Linked DNA regions of Homo sapiens: region 2 is linked to region 1. A link means that fine-mapping ties the variant in region 1 to the expression of a gene that starts in the linked region. Tissue or cell type: T cells. Region 1 holds a variant in brackets; the other region holds the start of a gene. All regions are shown on one strand. Distances are between the middles of the regions.

What was found. PIP is the estimated chance that this variant, and not a neighbour inherited with it, causes the effect.
Region 2: DHRS7B starts here. The variant in region 1 is fine-mapped to the expression of DHRS7B in T cells (TOPMed, PIP 0.95).

What each region holds. Positions count from the first base shown.
Region 1 is chr17:20,651,433-20,659,536 of GRCh38, reverse strand. It overlaps LOC105371583 (a long non-coding RNA gene), which reads left to right. Exons shown (of 3, transcript XR_934317.3): 2 at 3,602-3,788. It also overlaps the pseudogene LOC100287072 and the pseudogene LOC729334. Among named protein-coding and RNA genes, the nearest start is that of LINC02088, 22 kb to the right of the region's middle. The variant G/A (reference allele first, on the strand shown) is at 3,240.
Region 2 is chr17:21,122,215-21,130,318 of GRCh38, reverse strand. It overlaps DHRS7B (dehydrogenase/reductase 7B), which reads right to left and starts at 3,355. Exons shown (of 7, transcript NM_015510.5): 1 at 3,328-3,355. The coding sequence starts at 3,347. RefSeq lists an enhancer at 3,034-3,693.

The DNA.
Region 1 (8,104 bases):
GGCAAGCACAGTGATTCACAATTATAATTCCAGTGATTTGGGAGACTAAGGTGGGAGGATCACTCAAGCCCAGGAGTTGAAGACCAGCCTCGGCAATAAAGTGACATCCCAGCTGGACAAAAATTCGAATTAGGAAGGCATGGTGGTGTTCGCCTGTCGTCCCCGCTATTTGGGAGGCTGAGTAGGAGGATCATTTGCGCCTGGGAGGTCAAGGCTTCAGTGAGCTGTGATCGTGCCACTGCACTCCAGCCTGGGTGACAAAGCAAGACCCTGTCTCAAAACAACAACAACAAAAAACAACCCCCCCAAAACAAAACGAAACAAAAAAACCCCGACATCCCTAATAAAATACTGACTTATAAACTGATGAGAAAGAAACAATCAGCTCAGTGAAATAATAGGCAAAAGTGCTAAACTAGCAACTCTAGAAGAGAAAGTGCAATTGGTTAGTACACATAAAAATATGCTCAGAGATATACAAATTAAAATCTAATAAGATAGTATTTTTCACTTATCCTATTGGCAAAAATAAGATCAACACTTTCTGTGGCTGCTCAGACTATGCAGAGATGGGCACGTTCATCAAGAGTGAAATGTCGGCCAGGTGCGGTGGCTCACGCCTGTAATCCCAGCACTTTGGGAGGCCAAGGCAGGCCGATCACGAGGTCAGGAGATCGAGACCATCCTGGCTAACACGGTGAAACCCCGTCTCTACTAAAAAATACAAAAAATTAGCCGGGCGTGGTGGCGGGCGCCTGTAGTTCCAGCTACTCCGGAGGCTGAGGCAGGAGAATGGTGTGGACCCGGGAGGCGGAGCTTGCAGTAAGCCAAGATCGTGCCACTGCACTCCAGCCTGGGCGACAGAGCGAGACTCCATCTCAAAAAAACAAACAAAAAAAAGAAAGTGAAATGTCACAGCAGTCAGGTGAGTAACCTGGAGACATCTATTAAGATAAAAATGTGTATATTCTCTAGAGCAGCAGTCATAGTTTTAGAAATTCATGCTATAAAAATAAAATCACAACTATATAGGACTATATGAATAAGGACTCGTATTATAGCATTATTCGTAACAAAGAAAACTATAACCTTGCTGGCATTAGTAAGACAATATTTGAATATTCCAGGGCACATCCCTCCTGTGGAAGGCCATGCAGCTCTTAAAATGAGTTCTCTTTGTATGTATTGACCTGGAAGGATGCCCATGTTACATGAAATAAAAAGTGAAGGTGCAGCATACTGTGTAGAACATAGTCCTGTTTATATTTAAACATATATAAATGAAGCCTATACATTTTATGATTAACAAAAAATATACACACTGTTACCAGTGATTTCCTTGCAGGGTGAGTACTGAAGGAGGAGAAAGATTAGTATTTTTCTTGACACATCTCCATTTTGCTACCAGTATACCTAAATATTACTTCATAATTAGGAGAAAATCCAATACATTAATTCACCAATCTATTCATTTTTAAATTTCAACAAGAAACATCTAGACTAAAAAGTCCATACTATATTTTCTGAGATTCTACAGTTTTGCTTAAAAATTAATTTATGCAAAACTAGTGTTTTTGCTCCACGTCCTCTTGTTCTAATAATAAAATCATTCATATCCCAGCTCAACCTTCTATCTACAACTTATATTTAAAGTCCAGCTTGTTTCTCCTTCAAATTCTATTATTTGAGGAGGCTTTGAAGTTCTGAAACTATATTCATGAAAAAATGTAGAACAAAATGACATAAAGGCCCTGCAGAAACATAGCTGGTGATTAAAACTCAAGCAGCAGGCCGGGCGCGGTGGCTCACGCCTGTAATCCCAGCACTCTGGGAGGCCGAGGTGGACAGATCACAAGGTCAGGAGATCCAGACCATCCTGACCAACACGGTGAAACTCCGTCTCTACTAAAAATATAAAAAATTAGCTGGGTGTGGTGGCCAGCACCTGTAGTCCCAGCTACTCAGGAGGCTGAGGCAAGAGAATGGCGTGAACCCGGGAGATGGAGGTTAGTGAGCTGAGACTGCGCCACTGCACTCCAGCCTGGGCGATAGAGCGAGACTCCGTCTCAAAAAAAAAAAAAAAACCTTAAGCAGCAGACGAGCTTCTGTATAACAACATTATTTAGCATTTTACAAATGCTTACAGATAAAAATACTCAGCAGTACCTGGAGTAAAGATAGGACAAAATGTGGGCTGCAAATACAGTGGTGCCTTTTAAGTTGAGGTTGCAGTTTTCTTACTGTTTATATTTAAAAACATCCAGCAAATGAGTTTTAAATCATCCCAACAACTCTGAATACGAGATAAAGAGCTCCCAGAATCTACAGTCCTACTCGCAAGTATTTATTTTTACACAGAAGATATCAATGTCTCTTCTTTCTCACACCAAGCTAATGTTTCTAGTGATTCTGTGCTGTCTGGTTTGACACCCCAAAACATCTTCCTGAGTTTAAAGAGCACTCCTGTTCCTAATTTTCCTTTTATTAGACAGTAACTCTTGCCTTGTCTCATCCTTTGGATAAAATAGATACTAGCTTTCCTTTGGATAGCTAATAGCTCCATGCTGAGAACTGCAGGAGGTTTCTGCCTGATGGAGGTTGCTGAAATGGATTTGGATCTTCACAAACACAGGTATTCCCGGAAGTTTAAAATCACATTTCTGGAAGTTTAAAATCCACATAAAATTGTGGATCGCTCTGAGTTGAACACTAAGTTTCCAGGCTGAGTTTCATCCATGAGGCTTTTGGTGTAGTTGTCATTCAACCGTTTTCCATTAGATTTCTATTGCCACTGTCACCATGCTTACCTATCTGGCTTAACAGCATCCTTTATGATCAACTGCTGAGACCAGCTTGGTTGGGAGACCCTAACCCAGTGGCACTAGAGGAATTAAAGACACACACACAGCAACATAGAGGTGTGGAGTGGGAAATCAGGGGTCTCAAGCCTTCAGAGCTGAGAGCCTCAAACAGAGATTTACCCACATATTTACTGACAGCAAGCCAGTGATAAGCATTGTTTCTATATAGATTAACTAAGACTATTCCTTACGGGAAACAAAGGGATGTGCCGAAATAAAGGGATGGGCTCTGGCTAGTTATCAGCAGCAGGAGCATGCTCTCCTTAAACAGATCGATCATGCTATTGTTTGTGGTTTAAGAACGCCTTTAAGCGGTTTTCTGCCCTGGGTGGGCCAGGTGTTCCTTGTCCTCATTCCGGTAAACCCACAACCTTCAGC[G/A]TGGGCGTCATGGCCATCACAAACATGTCACAGTGCTGCAGAGATTTTGTTTATGGCCAGTTTGGGGGCCAGTTTATGGCCAGATTTTGGGGGCCTATTCCCAACAATGAACGAAACATCTACTTGCGTTTAGCCCAGCAAGATTCTGGAAATCAAACCAAAGCTTAGTGGTACTTAGTTTCAGATGAGGTAATGAAGTCAGACCCTGTGTGAAGAGGCACAATCAAGACCCCACAGAAGGAAGCCAAACTTTTTGACTTCTTCGGAATAAGCATTACTCAGATCTGCTCTGCCACTGTGCCTTCTCAACATTCCAGCTGCAAATAACTCTTCTTCATGAGACCTGTACTTTCTTTTTTCAGTACAACTTCATTTTATTCTCCAAATAAAAGACTGCTGAAGCTTCTGAGAAAAAGAAAAAAGAGTGAAGGATCATCTTTGATCATGCAGTGAGCTGATTCCAAAATGTGGACAAAAAGCAGACTCAAAGGCAATGGTTCCGAGAAACAGTGAATGTCACAAGGAGACACCTGGGCTCTTTATAAAGAGGTAATTTCTCTTCTACACATTCCCCCTTTCATACAGAGATGGCTGTGGATCCCAATCATGGGAAGAGCTGGGCTGTCTTTCTTCCACCAAATGCTCTGCTAGCTGACAGAGCCCACTGAGAGGTGAAAATAGAAATGGGGAGGGAGAGGCTGTAAAGGAGTTACCCTAAGGCAACACGGTCTTAGTTCACAAACGCAAGAATTTCCAGCTTACACTGCCCTACGGGGACAAGCTAATGTCCAGGACAGGCCAATGGGTTTTAATTCCTACTGTTCCAATTTTTTGGAAGCCAAAGGTTTTCGGACATAAAAAAATGTCAGACTACAAATGCCTGTACTAGGCTCCTCCACCAGAACTTCTCCAACAAAGAACTGTGTGGTGAAGCAGAGATGCCCATGATGAACACCACAGGCCCCTCCAGAATTTACAGAGAGGCTTGTGCTTCCCCTCTACTGTCAAGGCCAAAAAACTTTTTTTCTTTCATAATTTCAACCTAAAAATCCTAAAGGCCTAAGAGAAGCTTATGTCCACACCGTTCAAATCTGTAAAGATGCGGATTAGGGAATAGGGAGGCAGACACAGCTATTTAGAATTATAGACTGTGTATGTCATAAATCTAAACTATAAAAAAAAAGTACTATGTGAGTCAACAGATAAGGCTGGCTAGAGTAAGAGGATATGAGAGGACCAGGTTCTACATTAAGGGCCAAATTAAATGCCAGAAGCCCCTGTTCGTCATGGGTGCTAAGGTGAAGTCTGTTCAGAAACTGTTTAGGAATCCTTAGCGGAATGGGCCCCCTCCACCTGGGACAGGGGCTCGGTACCAGAGCATCTGCAGCAAGAGAGCTTGAAAAGGGACCTTAGGGACCCAAGAATCTATACCTCCAACTTCTGCCCTTCCCCTCTCCGCAGCAGCTGGAGAACATGTGCTAAGCGGCTGTGACCCATTAGAGCCATCAGAGCAACACAGAGGGCAGTGCGGGCACATGCAGCGACGCTCGGGCTGACACTGATGTGCACACACGGAGTTAAGCCAATTCCAGCGGAGTCTGCACATGCTGTGCTGCCACAGTGCTCACCTCCGAGAGGGGACAACCCAAGAACTGGTGGTGCAGGCAAAACACATTCGAATCACAGACATTCTATTTAGATACCAATAGCATTAATTAGGCACAGATGTTAAGTGTGTTTAATGATCTCTTTTAAAGATGTTTTCCTTCCATGGATGTTTACTGGTGTTATATAAACACTGTAAGAATTAGGTAAGTCACCCTGAAATAACAGCATTTACTGTTTCAGAACAAGAGAAATAAACAAACACAGTAAATGCAGAGGTCTTTCCCCGCTGCTGTTAGAGAAGCCTTGTGTCATGCACTGCTCATCAACAATGGGGAAACCACTGTGTCAAAGAGGTTCAAAGGATTGCATCAGAAAGATGCTAAGGCTGGCACAGGAATTTCTGACTCTCCCACCAGGGAAAGGTCAGCTGACCAACCAGTCCAGAGAATAGCAGAGCTTAAACGGACCTTGAAAACTACTCACTTTTCCCACCTCTTTTAACAGAGGCAGGAGACGGGGCTGGGAACGAGATATTGCTAGTTGGCTGCAAACATGAGGCTGAGAATGAGATACTGCTGGTTGGCTGCAAAGACGAGGCTACCACCTTCCTTCCCCATATACCTTAACATCAGTTATTCTAACTCTGAAATAAAAATATTTTTGAAGTGTAACAGGGCTGAAGATCATTGATGAGTTAGATAATATCCCACTGTGTAGTCACTGAGTTCCGGTAATAAATGCTGATTTGCATTCCTGCCTGGGCGCTTCATCTCATGCCTATCAGCCTGGCTGCAACCATCCCTGTGAGTGCCCACGGGGGCAAACAGTTTAAGAATCAGGTAATCCCGTGTCAGGATCCAGGTGCTTTTTGGGTGTTCTTACCTTCTCTCAGTTGTACTTGAAGATCTCATCAGAGAATGTTCTGCAAGTTCTTTTGCTGTGGCTGAACCAAGGATGACTTTTGAGTTCTCATTAGATGACTGCCAAAGTCAAATTGAGTTTCAATCAAGAACTCATTCAGCCAAGACGGAAACACTGGCTGGCTTCGGGAGCTTGGAGGGTGTGAGTTGGTTCTAGTTCTTGCTCATGGGGTAGGTTCCAGGAGTGACCGAGCCATGAGCGAGTAATTACCCAATAGTCAACTCTTCAGAGGTGACAGCTTGCCAGAGAAGTGCAAAATCAGACAAGAAACCATCACTGGCACTTGTCTGACTTCCTGCCAAACACAATGGCAGGCAAAATCATCATGATGCCTGATTTCAGTACCATGACACGTTCTCATTGGTGTCAGTTCCAAAATTTGAAATGTTTTGTGGTAAGGGATTAAACTGCTATATTGAGAAAGTAATGTTGCAAATCACCGGAAAATCAAAAAAGAAAATTCTGTGTTTAAAAAAACAATGACGTTAAGACTGAAGATGCAGGATGCAGCATAGGGAGTCCTAAACTGCCAGGATGCATGCGGAGATTTCCTAGAATACCAGGGTTCACACTGCATGGTATGGCCTGTGTCTCACAGTATACATAAGAAATGAAGCAGCTCATACAAGAACCTGGTTATTCAGGGCTACCATGGAAACTTAGGACTTACCTTTTACCATTTATCATTAAAATAGCGTCCATGTGAAGCAACACAAGTTCTGACTGGGATCTTCTTCCAATGACAGACAATAGGGAAGCAAGACAGAGGCAAACAAACAACAGCAGACACAGAGGCCACCCTGAATGGCCTCACTGCTGTTTCAACAGGGAACACTGCAAAATCTAGTTTTCCTAAAATCCACATCCTTTGGTGGCCAGAGGGTAGAGGTCCGGCTATAAAGTAATGATCTTGTCTGGTGCAACTGTAGTCCCAAATACTCTTAAATGTCACTATTAGCAGAGCTCTCTGGGCTGATAGGCTGTGTGTTTCTTCCCGTCCAGAGCAGAGGGGAATGTCATACATCAGCCAAATGCATGTTTTCCACTCTTTTTAAAATAAAGTGAGTTATGTCAAGGCCTGTTGAAGTAGCCCATGGGTGTTGTCAAATAAGTAGACACATCCCTGGGCCGGGAGGAATGTGTCCTTATTTGGTGGCTCCTCCCCTCAGGAGTGATTCCAGCTTCTCCCACTGCATGGGAGTGACCTGTGCAAGGTGGTGGGCTCGTATTTATCAGTGTGCACTCCCTGCACTAATAAATACTAAGATTCAAGGAGCATCCTAGACAGGACTTCTATTCTTTAAGCCTAGCAGGATACTTGGCTAGAACTCGCCCTTCATATGTAAGTGAGGAGCTTAGCAGCCCCTTATGCTGCTAAGCATGGCAGAAACTGGGCACTGGATGGAATGTTCCTAGTGATGCGGTAGCACTGGTAATGCAGACTGATCCCAGAAAAGAAACAGCAGAGCCTTGCACAGAGAGACATGAAGCGTCTCATCCCCACCAGGGAGCCCCACGCACAGTAATTAAGTGAAAAGCAAGCATGGCCTGGGTGCCCACTAGACTCACGGAGGGGCAGCTCTGCTGGAAACCACCCTGCCGCAGCCCTGCACATCCCCCAGCTCCTTCTGCAGCCAGGCATTCTCCTCCTCCTTCTCCTCCTCCTCCAGCAGTTCAGCAGTTTCCTCTTCACAGTGCCCAGCTCCTGCTGGGCTTCTCACTTGACATTGTTGGCCACTGCCACCGCAGTCTGCAGATCTGGCTGGAACCACCTCCATTCCATGGTCTCCTTCTGAAAATGCCAGAGCCCAACCCTGTGTCAGATGCCTGCCAGGGCTGGTGCCTGAGCAGAGACTCCAGAGCCCCTGTATCAGTCACCAAGAAAGAACAGCCAGCAGTGCTTAGTGAGGCCCTGCTTTCACGGTGTCTTGCTGCTAGGAAAAGGCACTGGTGGAAATTACACCTTCAGGTTATGAGAGCTCTCCATCCTGACAACAAATGACTGCTTTGACTTTACTTCCTGCTGGCAAGAACTTACAGTTTCAGGGCCCATGTCATGAAAATGTTCCAAGATAAAGCAGGATAGAGAGAGTGATCCCGACTTTGGAGGGGTAATTTATAGGAAGATGGTGGTGAAGGCTCCTGCCACATCTCCCCTGTATCTGCTCAGTCAGAGTCTTTAGCTGCCTCCCCAGATCTGACTTCTGTTTCTCCAGCTTGATCACATTACCTAGAAATAGACAATTCAGACAGGCCTTGGAAGAGTTGTGAGACTCTTGAGAGAAGGTAAGTCAGGTAGCAAAGGGGCAGCTCCACATGCCACAGCAGGTGTTCAA
Region 2 (8,104 bases), 470 kb before region 1:
TTCCCAGTTCAAGCGATTCTCCTGCCTCAGCCTCCTGAGTAGCTGGGATTACAGGCACACGCCACCACACATTTTTGTATTTTTAATAGAGACGGGGTTCGCCATGTTGGCCAGGCTGGTCTCGAACTCCTGACCTCAGGTGATCTGCCCTCCTCAGCCTCCCAAAGTACTGGGATTACAGGCGTGAGCCACCGTGCTCAGCCAAACCCCCTATTTTAAATGGAAATATCCAGGAAGACAATGCCCCAGCCCTATCCCTATCACTGTGGAAGTTTAGCCTAGGCACCTCAACTACTTGTTTTATCATAGAGCTGTTTCATGTTTTCCTTTGGAAAAAAGTAACTAGGTAGCACAGATGACCAACCCAATTACCAGGTGAATTTAGAATGAACTATGAAAACATGTACAGCAAATGGTGCTGTCAAGTCTTCTTATAAGAGGACAAATTACCATTAATCTTGAGACTACATAATGGGTTGTATCTGCTCAGCTGCATACAAATAAGTGGTGGGATTTCTTTTCTGAAAGAAACTGCATTAGCATATTATCCATAATACATTCCAGTCTGGTTTAATGCTTATTTTTTTCTTTTTCTTTTTTTTTTTTTTTTTTTTGAGTCAGGGTCTTACTCTGCTGCCCAGGCTGGAGTGCCGTAGTATTATCACAGTTTACTGTAGCCGCAAACTCCTGGGCTCAAGTGATCCTCCTGACTCAGCCTTCTGAGTAACTGGGACAACAGGTACACACCAGCACGCCTAGATAATTTTTTATTTTTTGTAGAAATGGGGTCTCCCTATGTTGCCCAGGCTAGTCTCAAACTCCTGGCCTCACATGATCCTCCCACCTCAGCCTCCCAAAGCGCTCGGATTATAGGTGTGAGCCACCACCTACAGCCTCACAGGGGTCTTTAAGTAACAAGATACAAGCTCCTCCTAGTCTCAAGACCTCACACATGCCCTTCCCTCCTCCTGTTAGCTCTTTGTCCAATTTAACTCCAACTCAGTCCTTTAAGTCTCAGCTAAATATTATTTTCTTGGGAAAGCCTTCCCTGTCTCTCCTCATTTCCCCCTCCGCATGCCGGTGACTCCATTATGTATCCTCACAGCACCCTCTACTGTCCTCCACAGCATGCATCACAATCGTAATTAATATTTAGTTTTATTTATATATTTACTATCTCCCTTGCTAGATTTATAAGCAATTTAAAGACAGGGGCTTTATCTGTTTTGATCATCATTGTATCCACAACACCCAGCACAATGCTGGTACACTGTAAACGTTCAATAAGTATCTGAAGGAATGAATGAAATTTGTAGCTAAGCGCTAGGTTCTGGAGTGACATGGCATTGGATCGGCCTTTACTAGCTCTATGCCTTTGTTGTTGTTTGTTGTTGTTGTTGTTGTTGTTTGAGACAGGGTGTCACTTTTTTTTTTTTTTTTTTTTTAAGACGGAGTCTCCTCGCTCTTGTCGCCCAGGCTGGAATGCAGTGGCGGCATCTCGGCTCACTGCAACCTCTGCCTCCCAGGTTCAAGCGATTCTCCTGCCAAAGCCTCCCGAGTAGCTGGGATTACAGGCGCCCACCACCACGCCCGGCTAATTTTTGTTTGTTTGTTTGTTTTGAGACAGAGTCTCACTATGTCGCCCAGGCTGGAGTGCAGCGGCGGGATCTCGGCTCACTGCAAGCTCCGCCATCCGGAGCACGCCATTCTCCTGCCTCAGCCTCCCTAGTAGCTGGGACTACAGACGCCCGCCACCAAGCCCAGCCAATTTTTTTGAATTTTTTTAGTAGAGACGGGGTTTCACCGTGTTAGCCAGGATGGTCTCGAGGTCCTGACCTCGTGATCCGCCCGCCTTGGCCTCCCAAAGTGCTGGAAATACAGGCGTGAGCCACCGCGCCCAGCCAATTTTTGTATTTTTTAGTAGAGACGGGGTTTCACCACGTTGGCCAGGCTGGTCTCGAACTCCTGACCTCAGGTGATCCGCCCGCCTCAGCCTCCTAAAGTGCTGGGATTACATGTGTGAGCCACTGCGCCCAGCCAAGACAGGGTCTCACTTTGTCACCCAGACTTGAATGCAATGGCGTGATCTCGGCTCACTGCAGCCTGTCTCCCAGGTTCAAGCAATCCACTTGCCTCAGCCCCAACAAATAGCTGGGACTACAGGCGTGTGCTACCTTGCCTGGCTAATAGCTCTATGCCTTTGGATAAACTTCTTAACATCTCTAAGCCCATTTCTCCCTCCATAAATAAAAATTATAGTTCCTATGATTAGGGTTATTACAGGATTGAATAATTCAGTAAAGGGATTAGTACAGTGCCTGTAACATAGCAAACACTCAAAAAATATCAACTATTATTAAGGAATGGAGAAAAGGGGACATGTACATGGTAGGGAAGGCATATTCCACACCCTTGGCAAAGGCACAAACATAGCTTCCATTATGCAAACACACCGTTGCAATCGGCAACAGTGTAAGCAAGAATTCTGCTTACTAAATGTATGAGTGTGTGAAACCCAAACGTTACTTCAAAAGTAACTTCACGATTCTCCAATCACTACATGGAAGGTTTGGAAACTGAAAAAAAGAGCATTATGTGGCTACCATTTGTTGAATACCTACTATGTGCCAGACACCAGCTGAGCACCTTGCACGCGCAGTCTCATTTACGCTTCACAACAACCTTATGAGTGGGCTTGTTACTCCCAAAGTTACAGCTGAAGAAACACTCAGAGTTTAAAACATTTGCCCAAAGCCGCACAGCCAGGAAGCCGCAGAGTAAGTATTGGAAGAGCAAGATATCTCAACCAGCCATTCCCGTGGACGCTCGAGTCAGCACCCTCCTCCTGCCTTCTGAAAAACCGGACTTCCTTTGCTAGTCCTAACTCGCCGTCACTGGCTAAGGTGCCACTGGCCCCCAGCGCTCAACCCTCGGTCCTGCCACTCGCAGACGCTGCGGAGCCTCCCCTACGTCGCGCAGAAATGTGGGAATAAACAGGTTGAAGCCAGGAGCCCTGTGGGCGCGAGGCCTTTCACACACAGCGCCCGGCGCGACACCCATTCCCAGCAGCGGAAACTGGACTCAAGACACCTCGGCGACAGGCGGGTTTCCCCGCCACGCACTCGCCGGAGCCAGGGCTCTGGTCCCAGCGCCTGGGCTGAGTCTTCCTTCAGAGTTCGGCGTCGCGGGGATCCGGAAGCCGCCCAGGGCCCGCGGCCTTAGCTCGACCACTACACCGCTTCCCCTCACCCAAGCCGGGGCGTCGCCTCAGCTCAAGGCCAGACCCTATCGCCTCATCTCGGAGGTTCCTTCTTCCCCAGCCCCTACCTGGTAGCCGGAGAGACCATAGTCAATCAACTTCATCCTCCCGCCTCGGAAGTGACGTGTACGCAGCCGGCGAGGCTCCGTCCAATCCCAGCATTGAGGCTGCGCATGCGCGTTGGGTGGGCGTCCCTCAAGGTGTACACAGGACCCGATGGACCCGAGATCTGATAGGGTCCACCCGCATAACTACAGTGCCTTCATCTTCCGGAGGGAAATTCCGAAGGTCGTGGTTGGTGTTCCGTGGACTTCCGGCGAAGAACACAGTTGGAGAATTCACGATACAGTTATCAAGATGATTATAATGCCACAGTAATCAGAACAGTGTGATAACTGGCACAAAGGTAAAAACAATGAATGAAAAAGAGAGAGACCAGAAACAGACCTGCAGCTATGTAGTCACTTTTTCCTCCTACAAGTAGCCACTGTAATGCAATAAGAAGAGTTTTTTCAATATATAGTGCTAGGTCAATTGAAGGTCGATTGGGGGGAAATGAACCTTGACTCCTATCTCAAGTAAAATAATTCTAGACGGATGGTAGACCTGAATGTGAACAATACAACTCTAGACAATAAAATCGCAGAATATTATGACCATAAGAGAGGAAAATAACGTGTTAGCAGAACACAAAAAGTGCCAGTCCTAAAGGAAAAAGCTGATAAATTGGGTGTCTGTAACTATAAGACACCGAAAAGACCCCATTGAGAAAAGGGAAAGACAATAGAACAGACAAGATATTTGTAATACATATATCTGAAAATGAATTTTATTCAGAATATGTACGTACTTCTTGCAAGTAAATTTTTTAAAGGACCCGAAGTGATTTAAAAAAAAAAAAAAAGCATGAAAAGAGGATATTGAGAGAGTAAAGGGCAGAGGAAGGAAGGGGCAGGGCAGAGGAAGGAAGGGGCGGGGGGACTCTTATCGTTCAAAATCATAAGATGGCAAATGTGTGTAAGGTGGAAAATCTCCCTTTCTGTTCTCCAGGACCCACTTCACCTCCCCCTAGGTAACGATGCTATTAGCTATGTGTGTCCTTCCAGAGCCAGTTTATTCATAACCAAGCAATTATGTATGTATTCAGCACCCCCTTGTTACACAAACAATAGCATTCTGAAACGTCCTTCTGTTTCTTGCTTTTATTAACTTTAGCGAATTAATATATCCTGGAAATTCTTACAGATATTCACAAAATCTGAAAATGGGAAATTTTATTTTTAACTAAATATTTATTTTTGACGTTTTCACAAAAGTTTTTATACCTTTCTGGCCCCTCTCCATTGTTCTGGAAACTCTAGATTCCTGCTTGCCAATTCACAAAGTTTGAATATCCTTGTAGCAAACCCAATATGAACCGTAAGGCAGAAAAATAGGGTCTGGAGACAGGGAACCTAAGGCCAATTCACGCTGACTTCCTAGAACTAAATCAAAAGGAAAACCCGAACTTTCCATGCCCAGGTAACAAAAGGAACAGAAGCTAGTCCCTTTGCAACCTGCCCCGCTTTTCTGCCTGGCAGATGAAAAATTGAAGGTACCTCTGATTGGTCCCCTCTTGCAACCAATCAGGCTGATCACAGGCCACTACTTCTTTTACATAGAGTGTACACCAAGTAACCAACGGGAACCCTCTAGAGGGTATTTAAACTCCAGAAAATTCTGTAACCGGGCTCTTGAGCCACCTGCTAGGCAGGCTCCCAACCTGTGGAGTGTGCTTTTGTTTTCAATAAATCTCTGCTTTTGTTGCATCATTCTTTCCTTGCTTTGTTTGTGCGTTTTGTCCAATTGTTTGTTCAAAACGCCAAGAACCTGGACACTCTCCACTGGTAACACCTGAGTCTTTATTGCATGACTAAGTCAGTTTCCTGGGGTTCATTTCCCAGGCCTGCTACCCTCTTAGCCTACCCACTCTTCAATCCTGCATGGAATTTGTTTTAGAAGCAACTCAATATATTTCAAAGTTTTGGTAACCAATTTGAATTGCATCTGCCAAATGCAAGTGTAAAAACTCTAACTTCGCAGCCAGGATATTATACAAAAAGGATTCCAGTGGGCCGGGTGCAGTGGCTCACACCTGTAATCCAGCATTTTGGAAGGCTGAGGCAGGCGGATCACCTGAGGTCGGGAGTTTGAGATCAGCCTGGCCAACATGGGGAAACCCCATCTACTAAAAATACAAAAAAATCAGCCAGGCATGGTGTCGTTTACCTGTAGTCCCAGCTACTCAGGAGGCTGAGGAAGGAGAATCACTTGAAACCAGGAGGTGGAGGTTGCAGTGAGCAGAGATCATGCCACTGCACTCCAGCCTGGGCAACACAGCGAGACTCCATCTCAAACAAACAAACAAAACAAATAGATTCCAGTGGTTAGCACAGTTCCATGGCCTTCTATGAAAACAAGATGGAAGATTTTTGTTTCCAGGAAGATGAACTAGACACAATTTTCCCTATTCCTTTTACTAAGTACAACTAAAAATTGTGGGCATTATATATAAAACAATCTAAGACTCCAAAAGTTGGAGAGAAGGCAAACCAGCTAGCCACCCTGGGACGCAAGGAACAACATGGTGGGTGTTGCCTTATATATCCCAGACTGGGTGCTAGGAAGCAAGCAACCTGGAAATGCCGACAGGCAAAGACAATGCCCTAAGAAAAGCCTTCTCTCTCTAGCCACAGGACCAGGAAATGGGCAGCCTCAGAGGACAGAAAACGTTTACACAATAATGGCTCTAATCCAGCCCAAACCACAGAAAAAGCCCCATCCCCATGCTTGCCTCTTGGAAAGCCTAGACTGCCACGCATGCTAGGCTGTAAAGAGGCACCACTGTCCCCTCTCCCTGGCATGGTGTCAGAGAAGGCCAAGTGGAGGGCTGGATTTTCTTTTTATTTTTATTTTTTATTTTTTCTTTTTTTTTTGAGACGGAGTCTGGTTCTCTCACCCAAGCTGGAGTGCAGTGGCACAATCTCGGCTCACTGCAACCTCTGCCTCCTGGGTTCAAGCAATTCTCCTGCCTCAGCCTCCTGAGTAGCTGGGATTACAGGCTCACGCCACCACGCCTGGCTAATTTTTGTATTTTTAGTAGAGACGGGGTTTCACCATATTGGCCAGGATGGTCTTGATCTCTTGAGCCTGTGATCCACCCACCTCGGCCTCCTGAAGTGCTGGGATTATAGGCGTGAGCCACCGCGCCCGGCCGAGGGCTGGATTTTCATTCCCACTGAGAGGTGAGGAGACTCTCCCCCAGCATGGTATCAGTGGAAACCATATGGAGAACCTGGACTTCTACCCCACTTAATTGTAAGAAAGCACTCATCCTCTTCCCTGGGGTGATGTCAGAGAGAGTGTTCCATCAAAGCCACCCCCAAAGCCACCCCCAAATGCCCAAGGAGCTGAGAAAACGTAGGAAGCAGACAAATCCAGTTTGTCCATATAGGATAATTATTAGAGGGAGCTTACAGACAGAAGCATGGTCTTGGGTGTCCACAAGGCAGGTGGATCTCCACACAGTAGCCCCGTAGAACCAGGGCTTATATCTTGGGGAAAAAATATACTTACTCTTGGAGGAATGTGTAGATGGTTGAGAGAATGCTGTGGGTGTCACAACCTATGATTTCTGCAACAGCATCAAGGGTTGTTTCTGTAAAAAGGCAAAAGTTACAGTGAATAGGTGATCCGGTATAAAGAGTAATACATCAACTAGACATTTTGGAGGCATTCCTGGAATTGGAGTTAGCGGATTCGCATTGAAAATAGTCACTCTTGTCCCCATAGGGAGCCAAGTGGAGAGTCAGGACTTTCAACGTCACTCAGTTGCAACAAAGCCACCTCCCACCCCACATATCAGTGGAGGTCCCCTCCCCATCCCAGCAAGGGTGGTATCCCTGGAGGCCAACTGGAGAGCCTGAACTCCCACTTGTGCCAAACAACCTCCCTCCACGTGTCAACAAAGGCCAAGTGGAAAACCTGGACTTCCACCCCTACTTGGCAATAATGAAGAGGCATCCCCTTCCCCTGCCAAAGTGGGTCAGGAAGCCTGCTAAAACACAAGATTTAAATGAGATCCAGAGTCTTATGACACCCCAAAGTCCAGGTTTCCACCAAAAAGCACTCATTATACCAAGAAATGGGAAAATCTAAACTTCAATGAGAAAACACAATCAACAGCTGGGCGTGGTGGCTCGCGCCTGTAATCCCAGCACTTTGGGAGGCCAAGGTGGGTGGATCACCTGAGGTCAGGAGTTCAAGACCAGCCTGACCAACATGGTGAAACCCCGTCTCTGTTAAAAATACAAAAATTAGCCGGGCATGGTGGCACATGCCTATAATCCCAGCTACTCGGAGGCTAAGGCAGGAGAATCACTTGAAACCGGGAGGCAGAGGTTGTGGTGAGCCGAGATCACGCCATTGCACTCCAGCTGGGGCAACAAGAGCAAAACTTCATCTCAAAAAAAAAAAAAGAAAGAAAAGAAAAGAAAACACAATGAACAGATGCCAACACAGCCGAACAAGGGGGCACACACCTGTAACTGCAGCACTTCGGGAGGCCAAGATGGAAGGATCCCTTAAACCCAGGAGTTCAAAACCAGCCTCGGCAACATAGTGAGACCCCCATCTCTACGAATAAATTTTTTAAAAAAATTAGTGGGGCTTGGTGACATGTGCCTGTAGTCCCAGCTACCTGGGAGGCTGAGGTGGGAGGATCACTTGAGCACAGGAGTTTGAGGCTGCAGTGAGCTATGATTGCACCACTGCACTCCAGCCTGGGTGACAAAGTGAGACCCTGTC